3 separate regions of the Homo sapiens genome follow, and regions 1 and 2 are each reported to be linked to region 3. The links are microRNA targets in miRTarBase. Many come from high-throughput screens and were not tested one by one. Region 3 holds a microRNA gene; each other region holds the end of a gene's coding sequence.

What was found. The annotated mature microRNA hsa-miR-127-3p reads UCGGAUCCGUCUGAGCUUGGCU and lies in region 3 at 2,647-2,668, opposite strand. An mRNA with a match to its seed (bases 2 to 7 or 8) in the 3' UTR can be bound and repressed. Matches are read on the target gene's strand: a 7mer-m8 pairs with bases 2 to 8, a 7mer-A1 pairs with bases 2 to 7 and ends in A, and an 8mer does both.
Region 1: the mRNA of ACTR3B is a reported target of hsa-miR-127-3p. The part of its 3' UTR that is shown has no 7-base or 8-base seed match.
Region 2: miRTarBase lists USP35 as a target of hsa-miR-127-3p. The part of its 3' UTR that is shown has no 7-base or 8-base seed match.

What each region holds. Positions count from the first base shown.
Region 1 is chr7:152,853,884-152,858,050 of GRCh38, reverse strand. ACTR3B (actin related protein 3B) reads right to left here. Exons shown (of 12, transcript NM_020445.6): 12 at 2,673-3,593. The coding sequence ends at 3,498. Among named protein-coding and RNA genes, the nearest start is that of ACTR3B, 96 kb to the right of the region's middle.
Region 2 is chr11:78,213,255-78,217,409 of GRCh38, reverse strand. It overlaps USP35 (ubiquitin specific peptidase 35), which reads right to left. Exons shown (of 11, transcript NM_020798.4): 11 at 2,178-3,764. The coding sequence ends at 3,597. It overlaps GAB2 (GRB2 associated binding protein 2), which reads left to right. Exons shown (of 10, transcript NM_080491.3): 10 at 1-2,117. Among named protein-coding and RNA genes, the nearest start is that of USP35, 26 kb to the right of the region's middle.
Region 3 is chr14:100,881,536-100,885,702 of GRCh38, reverse strand. It overlaps MIR127 (microRNA 127), which reads right to left and starts at 2,724; the gene lies at 2,628-2,724. RTL1 (retrotransposon Gag like 1) reads left to right here. Exons shown (of 4, transcript NM_001134888.3): 4 at 829-4,167. The coding sequence starts at 915. MIR433 (microRNA 433) reads right to left here and starts at 3,817; the gene lies at 3,725-3,817. MIR432 (microRNA 432) reads right to left here and starts at 1,220; the gene lies at 1,127-1,220. It also overlaps MIR136. RefSeq lists a silencer at 1-11.

The DNA of each region.
Region 1 (4,167 bases), not on the chromosome of region 3:
AGTTGCCAGATTTTTTTTTTAAGTTAAGGCCGTTCGTATCATATTCTCACCATCGTAAAGCTGAGTTTATGTCTAAATCTGTTGAATAGGGCAAAGCAACTTCCTGCACTTTTTAAGAAGGTCTCACTCTGTTGCCCAGGCTGGAGTGTGTGGCATGACCCTGGCTCCTGCAGCCTTGAGCTCCCGGGCTCAATGGATTCTACCACCTCCACCTACCCAGTAGCTGAGACTACAGGTACTCACCACCACACCTGGCTCCTGCACTATTAAAAGGTTTAATAGTCCTAAAGACTGTAGACTTATAATTTTAGAATTTAACGAGTGTATTTGATGAAATATTTTTTACAGAAAACTGCTCACCTGGAGTTGTAGTTTTGTCATAGGAGGTCGATTTTACCCATCAACTCTAGGAATACTTAACTCATTTCTATATTATGATCTAACTCATTCAACCTGAACAAAAGGTATGTGCAGATTTTATCAAATTTACTAACTGTAAACATTTTTCTTCCTTATAAAATGACGGGTGCACATGACCATCACAGTTCATTTCTATCTATAGTATCTGCCAGGCTCACTGAATAAACAAAAAATGATAACTCACCTCTATTAACAGGAAAAGGACCATTACAATTCTCCCACAGATGAGCAAACAGAAAATAGGATCTCATTTGCTTGAGGAACAGCCAGAATTGGTATTCAGATCTTTTTGAGTCAAAAACCCTTCCTTCTGCTCATAAGCCTTTCAGATCCAGCTACGCTGGCATTGCCTAAGGAGTTTAAAAACAAAAAGCAAAAATTGGATGCCTTCCCTGGGGCTCCTATTCTGATTCTCTTAATTTGGGATGGGTCTTGCCCAGGGTTGAGAACCACAGCATCATACCTGTCACATTGTAATGGATCATTCTGTCCTGTCAATGTAGGTTTAAAACAAAATGTTCTCGGCCTGGCACGGTGGCTCACGCCTGTAATCCCAGCACTTTGGTAGGCCAAGGCGGGCAGATCACCCGAGGTGGGGAGTTTGAGACCAGCCTGACCAACATGGAGAAACTTCATCTCTACTAAAAATACAAAATTAGCCGGGCATGGTGGTGCACGCCTGTAATCCCAGCTACTTAGGAGGCTGAGGCAGGAGAATCGCTTGAACCCGGGAGGCAGAGGTTGTGGTGAGCCAAGATTGCGCCATTGCACTCCAGCCTGGGGGACAAGAGCAAAACTCCATCTTAAAAAAAAAATTTAAAAAAAAAATATATATATATATATTCTCCCACAGTTCTTTAAGTTGACAAACAGAAGTACAATCTCAAAGCTAATCTTGTACCAAAGAAGGCACAGGGAAGCTTTGGGTATCCTGTGGTGGAAGGACAGCTCATACAGCTCTAGCTTAGCCAGGCTGCCACAGCACTGACATACAGAGTGGTGTTATTCCCAGGGTTTGGAGAAGGCGCAACAAAGCACCTGCCAACGCACAGATGCAGAGCAGAGGTGGGAATGACGGTGCCCACTGTGAGATGTGCAAAGCATGCTGAATCGGGCGGGGCAGGGTGGAGATGGGAGTATCAGGTAGGTCCCTGAATAGCACAGAACTAAGAGGAAAATGGCGTTAGAAGGAACGGCTCTCGCTGCCACGTTCAGGGTGCAAAGGTGTGACTGAAGGCAGGCAGACCAACCGGGAACTTGATGCAATAAAATGGCTGGAAGATCATGAGAAGCCAACGGTACAGCAATCCCGAGAAGCAGCAAATCCCCCAAGGGAATGCAGAGAAACACTACGGATGAGGGGAGAACCAGGTGGTACCAGACTCTTGACTGGGGAGACTGAGGGCCTAGCACAGTGACAGTATCAGAGATTCGGTCAACTGAGGTTGGTAAACTCAGATTTCACCATACTGAGTTCAATATTAAACTTATTTCTAAACTCAAATAATAACATAACTTTTTTTTTCTTGTTTTTGTTTTATTTAAGACATGGAGTCTCACTCTGTCACCCAGGCTGCAATACAGTGGCTCAATCCTAGCTTACTGCAGCCTTGACCTCCTGGACTCAAGTGATCCTCCTGCCTCAGCCTTCTGAGGAGCTGGGACTTCAGGCGCACACCACTGCACCTGGCTACGTTTCTTTATGAAGGCAAATTTTCTGAGAACAAAACATATTTCATTCACCTCCTTTGAGAGTGAAACTAAGGAAAAAATTTTAAAACAGAACAAAAAAAAAACATACTTCACAACTTAGAAGAAATACCATAAATAACAATTTTTAAAGTAACATAATTATAAGAATAATATGAAGAGTGAAATCAACCTAAATCTATTAATTGAGCAAATTACCTTTCAAGCTAGCAGTCCATTCAGCAAACATCAGAGTAGTTACTGAAAGCTTACAGTCATGAATCCTGAACTTCTAGGAAGGAACATCAGAAATCATTAGGCACTCCTTCCCACTATACCCCAGATTCAAAAACCATCTCTGACGGGTTATCCAGACCCACGATACCCCCAGCGATGGAGTGGTCACTGCGGGGCAGGCAGCCCACACCATTCGCGAAAAGACATTTCCTCCCACAAGCTGAGTATTAATCAAATTCTCCAATGATGTAAAACAATGTCAATATTCTTTAAAGGAGGCACAGCGACAGGGAGAAAACCAACAGACCACCACACTACAGCAGAAAGATATTTACAAATATTCTAACAGCTTTTATTACAATGGTGCAAGGAAGTATTTCATCCAACACTCACCGACAACAAACCATCATCTTCTATAAAACAGCTCCAGAAAGTTCAAACAAAAAAAACTAAAAGATACATGTATCTGTAGTAATTCTCATACATTACTGTTTAGTGTTCAAACTTCATGTCACTCCAATAAAGTATAATCATTTTCTAGCAAACATGTGGCAAAAAAGTTTGCTGTTTTATTTGTTTGCCTATAAACATATCAGAACATGCCTCACAATTAAAAACTTTGGATTACAGCACTCCATAACATCAATATCTATTCGTGCTTAGTATCAGCCAGTTGTACCAAATACCATAAAATACAAAATGATAGGAAATATAAACATCGATTTGTATTTCAAGTTTAAACATTTTATTTACAAAAATAGGCTGGGAGGAAAAGGGTTTGCGCCCCCACATTCTCTCCTGGGACCTAACGATTTTGCGCCATTTTCTAATGTTGTTTTCTCTAACAATTTTCAAAGTCACATTTGGATTCCTTCAGAATTGTATTTGTCAGCTAGCAGCTCGGAGGAGGAGGAGGAGGGAGAGCGAGGGTGAGGAGGGCGGGAGAAGGAGGAGGCTGGCAGACAGCGGTCGGCACACGGATAAATGGCTTTTACTGAAGGGCCCGCGCCGCGCCTCATGCACCGGCAATGCAAGCACGCTGCTGGGCAGCAACACCGACGTCGCTATTTACAGAACGGCGGCCTTCTCTGGGTTCTGAAGGACACTTGTTCCCCAACGTGACACCATCGAACGACGCGTTCAGGCAGACACTAGGACATGACTCCAAAGACGGGGTTGTGGCGGCAGATGCTGGGCCCGTACTCTTCATAGTCCTTCTTGGTGTGGCAGACCTGAAAGAACTCGGGCTACGAGAGGCAACAGGCAGACAGAAAGACACTCATTTCAGAAGAAAGTCAAGGGAACCAGCTACCAAGCAGGCAAGACACTCTCCTCATCCCGGCCTCCACCCTCCCTCCCAGGACCGCTGCTGCAAGATTTTACCTCTCTGATGTACTAAACTACTAAATGGGGAGTTATTTCACTTTTTAGAAATTTCATCAGCCTGTATCTTCTTAGGACCAACCAAATGCCGGTCCCCCACTAACAATGTGTGAGCTATTCACAAATGTGAGGGGGAAAAGTAATAATTATTTGGAAAAGTCACTGGAATTAATGATTAATGCAGGACTTTTTTAGATTATTTTTGGATGCCACTTACCATGTTTTCTGTAACCCCTAATTAGCAAGGACACGTGATAAATGTGTTGTGTGATTATTAAGATATAGTTTATATCGGGCCGGGCACAGAGGCTCACACCTGTAATTGCAGCACTTTGCGAGGCCAAGGCAGGGGGGTGGATCACCTGAGGTCAGGAGTTTGAGACCAGCCTGGCCAACACAGCAAAACCCCATCTTTACTAAAAATACAACAAAAAAAAA
Region 2 (4,155 bases), not on the chromosome of region 3:
GTTATTTCTTCAAGAGCTGCACCTCTCCTCCTAGCATTAGTTTAGATCAACTCAAGGAGTATTTATTAATGGCTGCTGTCTCCAGTTTCTGGGGTTAAGCACTAAGGACACAAGAATCAATCAGACCTTCTCCCTGAACTTAAGATAGCCACAATCAGAAAAAGGACAAGGACATGAGACAGTGGTGATGGCCATCAGACAGAGACTTCAAATGCTGATGGAGGGCAGAGGAAGTACTTAGGGAGGTTGGTGTCAGAGGCAGGAGTGGGGGATCAGGGAAGGTGGATTCTAGGAAAAGGGAGTGCCTGAGGTAGGCCTTAGAAGGGGATGAGTCAGATTTTTACAGAGGAGGAGGGCAGGGCTTGGGTCCAGTGGAGGAAGAAGGAAGGAGAGGCTTGGAAAGCCTTGTGTCTTGGGAACAAAAGGCCTTTGAGCATATGGGTCCAGCCACTCAGAAGTGTAGGGGCCATGCCTTGGTGTTCCAATAAGTGAATGGAAGCAGTGGTGGTAGCTACACTGGGCAGAGTTGGCAGGGTGCTGGTTCACTCTGCCCAGCCCTGAATGTGTGCCTTAAAGGCCCCCTACAAGGGGCCCCATACGACAGAGCTTTTAACTGGTGCCTTCCCTGTACCCGCAGCAGCCACAAGTGGGCCCAGACTATTGCAGCCTCCCATAAACATGTGAGCATGTTCTGAGTGTGCCATGATGTGAGTGGACCTGGCTGGAATCTTCGGAGAGCGACTGAGGTGTTCAAATCGAATCTCCCAGGAGGCTTCCTTCCAGCCCCCTATTCTGGTAACTACCAGGAGGCTTCCTTCCAGCCCCCTATTCTGGTAACTACCAAAATCCCTCGGGTGCAAGTGTAGGGGTAGAGATGGAAGGATGAGAGGTGAAATTGACCTTTTGAAAGCAAAGCTCTGGCTCACAGGCCCCAAACTACCAGCCGTATCTAGCATATCCCCACCCTCCACCCACTACCTCCTCCAACAAAGGAGTCAACTCAGTTGAAAAAACTGGTCCTTTGGCCTATCCATGGGTCAAAGTCCACCTCTCCTGGGGGCCTGGAGAGGACTGAGCCTACGGAAAGGGGATACCTTCCCACTCAGCACTGCTTCACACAGGCCCCCTGCCTGGGGCTCTCCAAGGAGCCTTCTTCACCCACTTCCAGCTCCACTTCTGCAAGGTTAAGTCAAGTGAGAACGATGAGAAATAGGGAGATGGTGTCTCCTTAAGTCCTTGATCTGCCTGTCTGTGGAATGGGAGGTTGGATTAGCTGCGCTGAGGTCCCATCCACAGCTGGTGCTCAGCTGCTTGAAGGGGAGACTCCCTCCTCTGTAACTTCTTTCTGGGGGATTGGGGTGGGCAGTACCTATCCCCAGTCCCCTCCTAGCTTGACTTTAGTGGTTTCCAATGTAGAAGTTAACAAAGTATGCCCCATTCCTGTGACAAAAGCACAACCATTCTGAAGTTACTGGAGCATGGGCTCAGCTCATCCTCCCTCTGGCCCCTTCTCCCATGGGGACATCTCGGCCCAGCACCCCTATCCCATTTCCAGAGTTCTTCCTTCCCCATCTGGGCCTTCATAAAATGCAGGGGAAGCCAGACTGGTCTCAGGAGCGCTAAAGCCCTTCCGTGGGGGGTCGTCTTTCTGGGACTAGCCCTGCTGTTTAGGACCTGGGACCACAATGGGGTACCTGCCGAGGGGGTCCCCAAGAGATCCAGGCTGTCATGTGATTTATGGTGGCATGTGTTGTGTATTTGTTGGCTACTTGTGTCTTGAAATCTAGAATTATTTCACGCAGAATTGTCACTGTTTGTCAGGAAGAGAAAATGGGCTAGTGGAAGCCCAGTCTTGAGTTCTTGTCTTGTTACCATTTAAAATTGACATTTAATTTTCAAATCACTGTTGGTGCCTAATCACTTAAGTTATTAATTTATTCTGTTGTATTCTTTTTTTTAAATTGTAACATATTTATCCGGTGGGTGGGACAGGAGTGTGTTCAAGTGGGTCATGTTTTTGCTGTGGTGACACATGGTACAGGCTTGGAGCTTGCAGGTCCCTTTCTACTGTGGTGTTGGAGCAGGACAATAAAGTCCACTAGAAATGCACCCCAGAACCAGCTGCCGTGTCCATCTTGTCTTGAGGGGCTTGGTGGTGGAACCCGTTCTCACTCCAGTCTGTTCCAATTTTTGCTTTATTTGGAAATAATTGGGTATTTTTCTTGGCTGTGAATAAGAACAAATGCTCTCTACCTCAGCGTCTGTTGTAAAGTGGAAATCATACTAGCATTTACCCATCCAGCTTTCTTAGGCGTCTAGAGATGGGTTCTGGGCGTGTCTGTCTGCTGCTTTCACAGGTCACTTAGATGTGACATCTTGAGGGTCTGTGACATTGGGCCCAAACTCCACACCACCATCACAGCAGGCAGCCCCTGGGGAAGGAGGTAGGTAAAGGCTTGAGAGCTGCCTCCCAGGTGCATCCTCTCCACGGGCAGCATCACCCAGCCCTCAGTAAGGTAAGTAAGTCAGTCAGTCCACACGTTTACTTACACCCCACTTCAGTAGATTCAGTAGAGGGCTCTTGGCTCCCTGTGGCATCTCACACGTCACTGGGGGGCAGGCTGAGTCCTGGCCTCCCCAGACCCCGTGAGCAAAACCCAGTGGCCATCACAGCCCCTGAGTCCAAGGAAGAACAATCTCTTGCTTAGGCTTACTTTTATTTATTTATGAACATGGGTGTCTGTCTTGTCTTCGGTTAGAAGTTAGAAGGGGGCTACAGCAGTGTCAGGGCACTTCACCCAACCTGCAGGTGGCTGCTGTTGCAGCTACAAAGGCCAACTGCTCAGAGGAGCCCACAGGCTTCCTAAGAGCCCACACTTCACAAGGAACATGAACACCTTTGCAGTAAAATCAGGACTCTAACCACAAGGGGGATACAAGTGGTGGCTTCTCAGGCCCTGAGGCAGGCGTGGAGGGGCTGTGGGGGCAAAGGCCTCCTGCTGTGAGAAGCTAGCCCCCCGCCCCCCCCCCCAAAACCATGCAGTGGCGCTTGGTAAGGGGGCAGGTCTCGGTCTCTGTTCTTCTCAGAAAGGTACAGACAGTGCAGGTACCCCCCACCCCCATATGAGAAACAAACAAACAGGACAGCCAGAGGAGACACTGCCCCCCCCACCCCTTTGTGCAAGGCTTGGATCCTGCTGTGCTTTATACCGTACAGCAGTCGGAAGGAAAATAGTACTTGATGTCAAAACATTGGAGCTGAGGTCTAGCCTGTTTCCTGAACATCATCAGATCTTCCCGCATGGGGAGCCTGCTAGGGAAGGAGGGGGAGGCAAAGACCCGTGTGTGCCCATCTCGGCTGCTTCAAGTTAACCAGGACACTTGGGTGTAAAGTTTTAATGGGACTGATCCCCAATGAAAGGGACTTAGGTCTTACTTCCATATCTGAGAGAATCTCTGTGTACCCTTCATCAGGCTGAGGACTAAGGTGCCATGAGCTGTACCATCCTTCCTCTTGGTAGGGCCTGCCTCCACAGCTTCCCTCAGGCCCTACCTGGCTCCTGGAGGGAAGGGGTCAGGTTGGCAGCAGGTTCACATTAGAAGACCAGTCTGTGGAAGTCACCACCATTGCCACCTGCAGGATTGCAGCCCCCTGGAGAGCCTTCATCCTCATCCTTGTCTTCATCAAAGCCCCTCCCCCAGTGCGGAGATGTGGGGAGTGCAGAGATGTAGGCCGCCCTGCTCCGGGCCTCCTTCTCCTGCTCCTGGGAACACAGATGAGAGGAGACTTAGACTTAGAATTCACACCCTGAAGCCAGAGTGAGTCTACCCAGCACAACACCTTTCAATGTTTCCTCTAGGTCCCCAGGGCCTGGACACACAGAGACATTGCAGCTCAGTGGCAGGATATCCGGGGTGGACACCTTCAAAAGACTTCAAAAGACCCCCTCCTCTCAATAAAAACTCTAGTCCCTGAGCCAGCTGATACTAGGGTGTGACTGACTAGCTGACAAGGGCCTAATGTGGTACCGAGAGGTCTGAGGACTTCGAGGGTCATATCACACCACACGGGAACCTGTCCGCAGGCCTCATGATCACGAGGAATGGGCTCTGCCTATGAGAAAGCCCATCCTCCTGCTACCAGGACGTCAGCCT
Region 3 (4,167 bases):
AGGAGATTATTTGAAGATCTCCTCAACAGCTCAGAGGTCGGGAGAACATAGCATTGGAAGGAGACCAAATCGAGAAAGAGAAATTGGCCAAAAGTCTGAGTTAGAATCAAGTAACAAATATGCAGTTATCCAGCACATAGTAGGTATGTTATAAAATTTATGGAAAAAAAAAAAAAAAACCCAGACCTGTACACACCCCCTGAAATTTCTATTTTGAACATGGGGAAGGAAATAAGAACTATTTTGGGCTGCTGACCCAACTGACGGGACAGTGGCCAAGTGCCCATTTTCTCCTCTTCCACTGCACTGGTGAAACAGTAGGCATCTTTGCTAGAGATTCCCGCTCCACAACCAAGGTGGCTGGGCTTGCTCCAGAGCCCTGAGCCTGCCAGGGGTGGCTTTGGATGGTGCTGAGATGTGACCTCTGTGATTCTCAGGTGACCAAAGCAGGAAAAGAGGATTGACCAGGTGCATGTGCCAGGGGGGAATGGAGCAGCCTGTGCACCCTGCCAGGTACCCGCCTGCCACGGTGGCTGCTCCCAGCCACAGAATTTATGGGCTGTGAATTTCTCACATCTATGGAGGAAAAGGACAGGACAGGCAGACTGAATAAGCCTGGGAGGCAGGTCAGGGGTTGACAGATCTTCCCTCCCTGGGGGCACCCCAAGTGACCAGCCAAAGAGGCTGGCTCGATACAAGAAGGCTTTCCCCCATTTCTCTCTGCTCTGATTAGTTGGGCATCTGATTTGTCCTTGAGACCCTGATACTGCCACTTCACAAGATCCTAAACTACTGCCTTTACTCCCCACACTCCCCTTCCACCACCAGGTTCTGATCTCCACGGTCCCAGCTACTGACTGGACGCCATCACAACCTTACCAATCTTCAGAATACACTCCTTTCCATCCGACGAAATGATAGAACCCTCTGAAGACTCATTTGAGACGATGATGGAGCATAAGAATCCATCATCAAAACAAATGGAGTCCTCCGAGGGCTCATCCAACACCACCGAGGCGACGTCGGGCAGTGGAGTGCGGGGAGAGGCAGGGCCAGCCAGCGGCCCAGCCCAGGAAAAGAAGGAGCCCCCCAGTGGCCCACTCCAGGAAATGGAAGAGCTGCCCACTGATCTACTCCAAGACATGGAGGAGCCATCCAGTGGCCCACGTAAGGAAATAGAGGATCCACCCAATGACCTACTCCAAGACCTGGAGGAGTCATGCAACGGTTCACACCAGGCAAGGGGGGATCCACTCAGTGGAGCATCTGATAGGATGAAAGAAGCATCAGTCAACCCATCGGGAGCCCGAGAAGAACAAGAGGCTCACACTGACCTGAAGGAATCGGGAAGGGAGGAGACTCCTCAAGAGCAAAACCAGACCGAGCACTCAACCGCAGAACTTATGGCCATGGTGAGGTCCATCATCTCGCTGTACTTCCGAATGCAAGACCTCAAAGAGCAACAGAGAGTAGCAGAAGAGATCTTGATCAAAGGGATCAATGCAGGCCAACTGCCCGCCCCAAAGCACTTCTCTGGCGATCGCAGAGAATTCCACGAGTTCATCGTACTCTGCCAACTGACCTTACAGAGCTACCCAAGAATGTTCTATAACGACCGTCTGAGAGTTGGCTATGTCATCAATCACCTGTCCGGCTTGGCATTAGAATGGGCCAAAGCTCTACTGCAGGAAAACAGCCCCCTGATCGGAGACTTCCCAGCCTTCCTGGAGGCCATGTCCGAAGTGTTTGAGTACCGCCAGGCACTGCGTGTGGCAGAAGAGGCCATGTTCACCATCAGGCAGGGCGGCCGCTCTGCCACTGAGTACATCGATGAGTTCCAGAGCCTGGTACCCATCTTGGGCTGGCCAGATGAAGTCCTGCAGGCCCACTTGTGCCAGGGGCTCAACGAGGAGATCAGGCACTATCTATTCCGGGTCCCTCAGCCGGATTCCCTAGACAGTCTGATTGTGCTCATCCTGCAAATAGAAGAGAAGCTGGCAGAGAGAAGAGCTATGCTCAGGCTGCCCCCCGAGGCCCGCCCCCGGAACCTGACCTGGATCGACTCACCTGCTCCAGAGAGGTGGATGGTCAGCAGCTGGTTGCCCAGCGAAGTCCATCCGGACATCAATCGCGCCCACCTCTTCCTGCTGCTCATGGTGAGAGTGAACCCCTACCACAGCGTCGCGGTCCAGGCCCTGGTGGATTCGGGAGCTGACGGCAACTTCATGGATGAGAAGTTCGCCCAAGAGCACTACGTCGAGCTCTACGAGAAGCCGTACCCACAGCCGGTCCAATCCGTGGACGGCTCGCTGATTGGCAACGAGCCTGTCTGGCTCTACACGGAGCCCCTGGTGTGTATCCACCAGAACCACCAGGAGTCCATCGAATTTGACATCGTACCTTCACCGAACTTCTCTGTGGTCCTAGGCATCCGCTGGCTCCGAGTCCACGCCCCCGAAGTCGACTGGATCAAAGGCCGCTGCACCTTCCACTCTCCCTACTGCCTGAAGAACTGCTTCCGCCCGCCCCCGCCATGCATTGCCCTAGAGAGGCACGGCATGAGCCTGCTACCCGGACTGCCACACCCATACTCAGACCTGGCCGACGTGTTTAACCCGAAGGAAGCAGATGATGAGACTTCCGACCAGCCAAGCTCAGACGGATCCGATGATCTTTCTGAATCAGAGCCCTCTGAGCTTCAGCAGGCTGGAGACAGTGATCACAGCGAGACCTTTTACGAGTGTCCCTCCACCGCGCCTTGGGAACCTGTGGGTGCCAGGATGCAAGAAAGAGCCAGGCTACAGGAGGAATACTGGGACCTGCAGGACATGCTGACCAACAGACAGGACTACATACAGATGATTCCGGAACTGTTTGACCAGTTACACGGAGCCGAGTGGTTCACAAAACTGGAGCTGCGTGGGACCATTGTGGAGGAAAGCGTGAACGGGCACCGCACCGAAGATGTGTGGAAAGCAGCGTTTGGTTTGGAGCTTGAAGAGATGAAGAGCTACCAGCCGTTTGCGCTCTCCCCAGACCCTATCATACCTCAGAACGTGATTCACTTCATCCTAAAGGACATGCTAGGGTTCTTTGTGCTTTCTTATGGCCAGGAAGTCCTGATCTACTCAATGAGTCAGGAGGAGCACCTCCACCACGTCCGCCAAGTCCTGGTCCGCTTCCGCCATCACAACGTCTACTGCTCCCTGGACAAGAGCCAGTTCCACCGCCAAACCGTGGAATTCCTGGGCTTCGTCGTCACCCCCAAAGGGGTGAAACTGAACAAGAACGTCATGACCATCATAACAGGGTACCCTACCCCTGGCTCCAAGCTATCTCTGCGAAACTTCATCGAATTCGTCTTCCCCTACCGCCACTTCGTGGAGCGCTTCAGCATCATCGCAGAGCCCCTGGTGCGGCAGCTGCTGAGCTCCTACCAGTTCTACTGGGGAGTCGAGGAGCAAGAGGCCTTCGAGTGCCTGAAGAGGGCTTTCCGCAAGGCGCCTCTCCTCCACCACCCCAAGCCCCAGAACCCATTCTACTTGGAAACCGGCGTCACCGGCACGGCCCTGCACGCCTCCCTGATCCAAATCGACGACCAAACCGGCAAGAGAGCCTGCTGCGCTTTCTACTCCCGCAACATCTCCCCTATCGAGGTTGAGTACTCTCAAGCGGAGATGAAGATTCTTCCAATACGGGCTGCCTTCATGGTGTGGTGCCGCTACCTGGAGAACACCGAGGAGCCCATCATGATCCTTCTCAACACAGAGGATCTAGCCTCTCTGAATAATGACAGGCTCACCGTACTTCTCCCCGGGCATTGGGTCTTCTTCTTCTCCCACTTCAACTTTGACGTCATGGAGCTGCCAGAACAAGACGGCGGCCGAGCTCTGCCACCTGTGAGAAACCTCCGGTGGAGGAGAGCCTTCCAGAGGAACACTGCCGCCAGGCAAACCCTGCTGCTGGCCTCAAGGGGATTCCCCAGGGATCCATCGACGGAATCCGGGGAAGAAGAGAATGAAGAACAGGATGAGCTCAATGAACAGATCCTACGGCAAGAGCTGCTGGCCATGATACCCATCGACCAGATCCTCAACAGCTTCCTCGCCCACTTCAGCATGGCCCAGATCAGGGCCGTCATTCTGCACTTCTTCCGAGGCCTCCTGT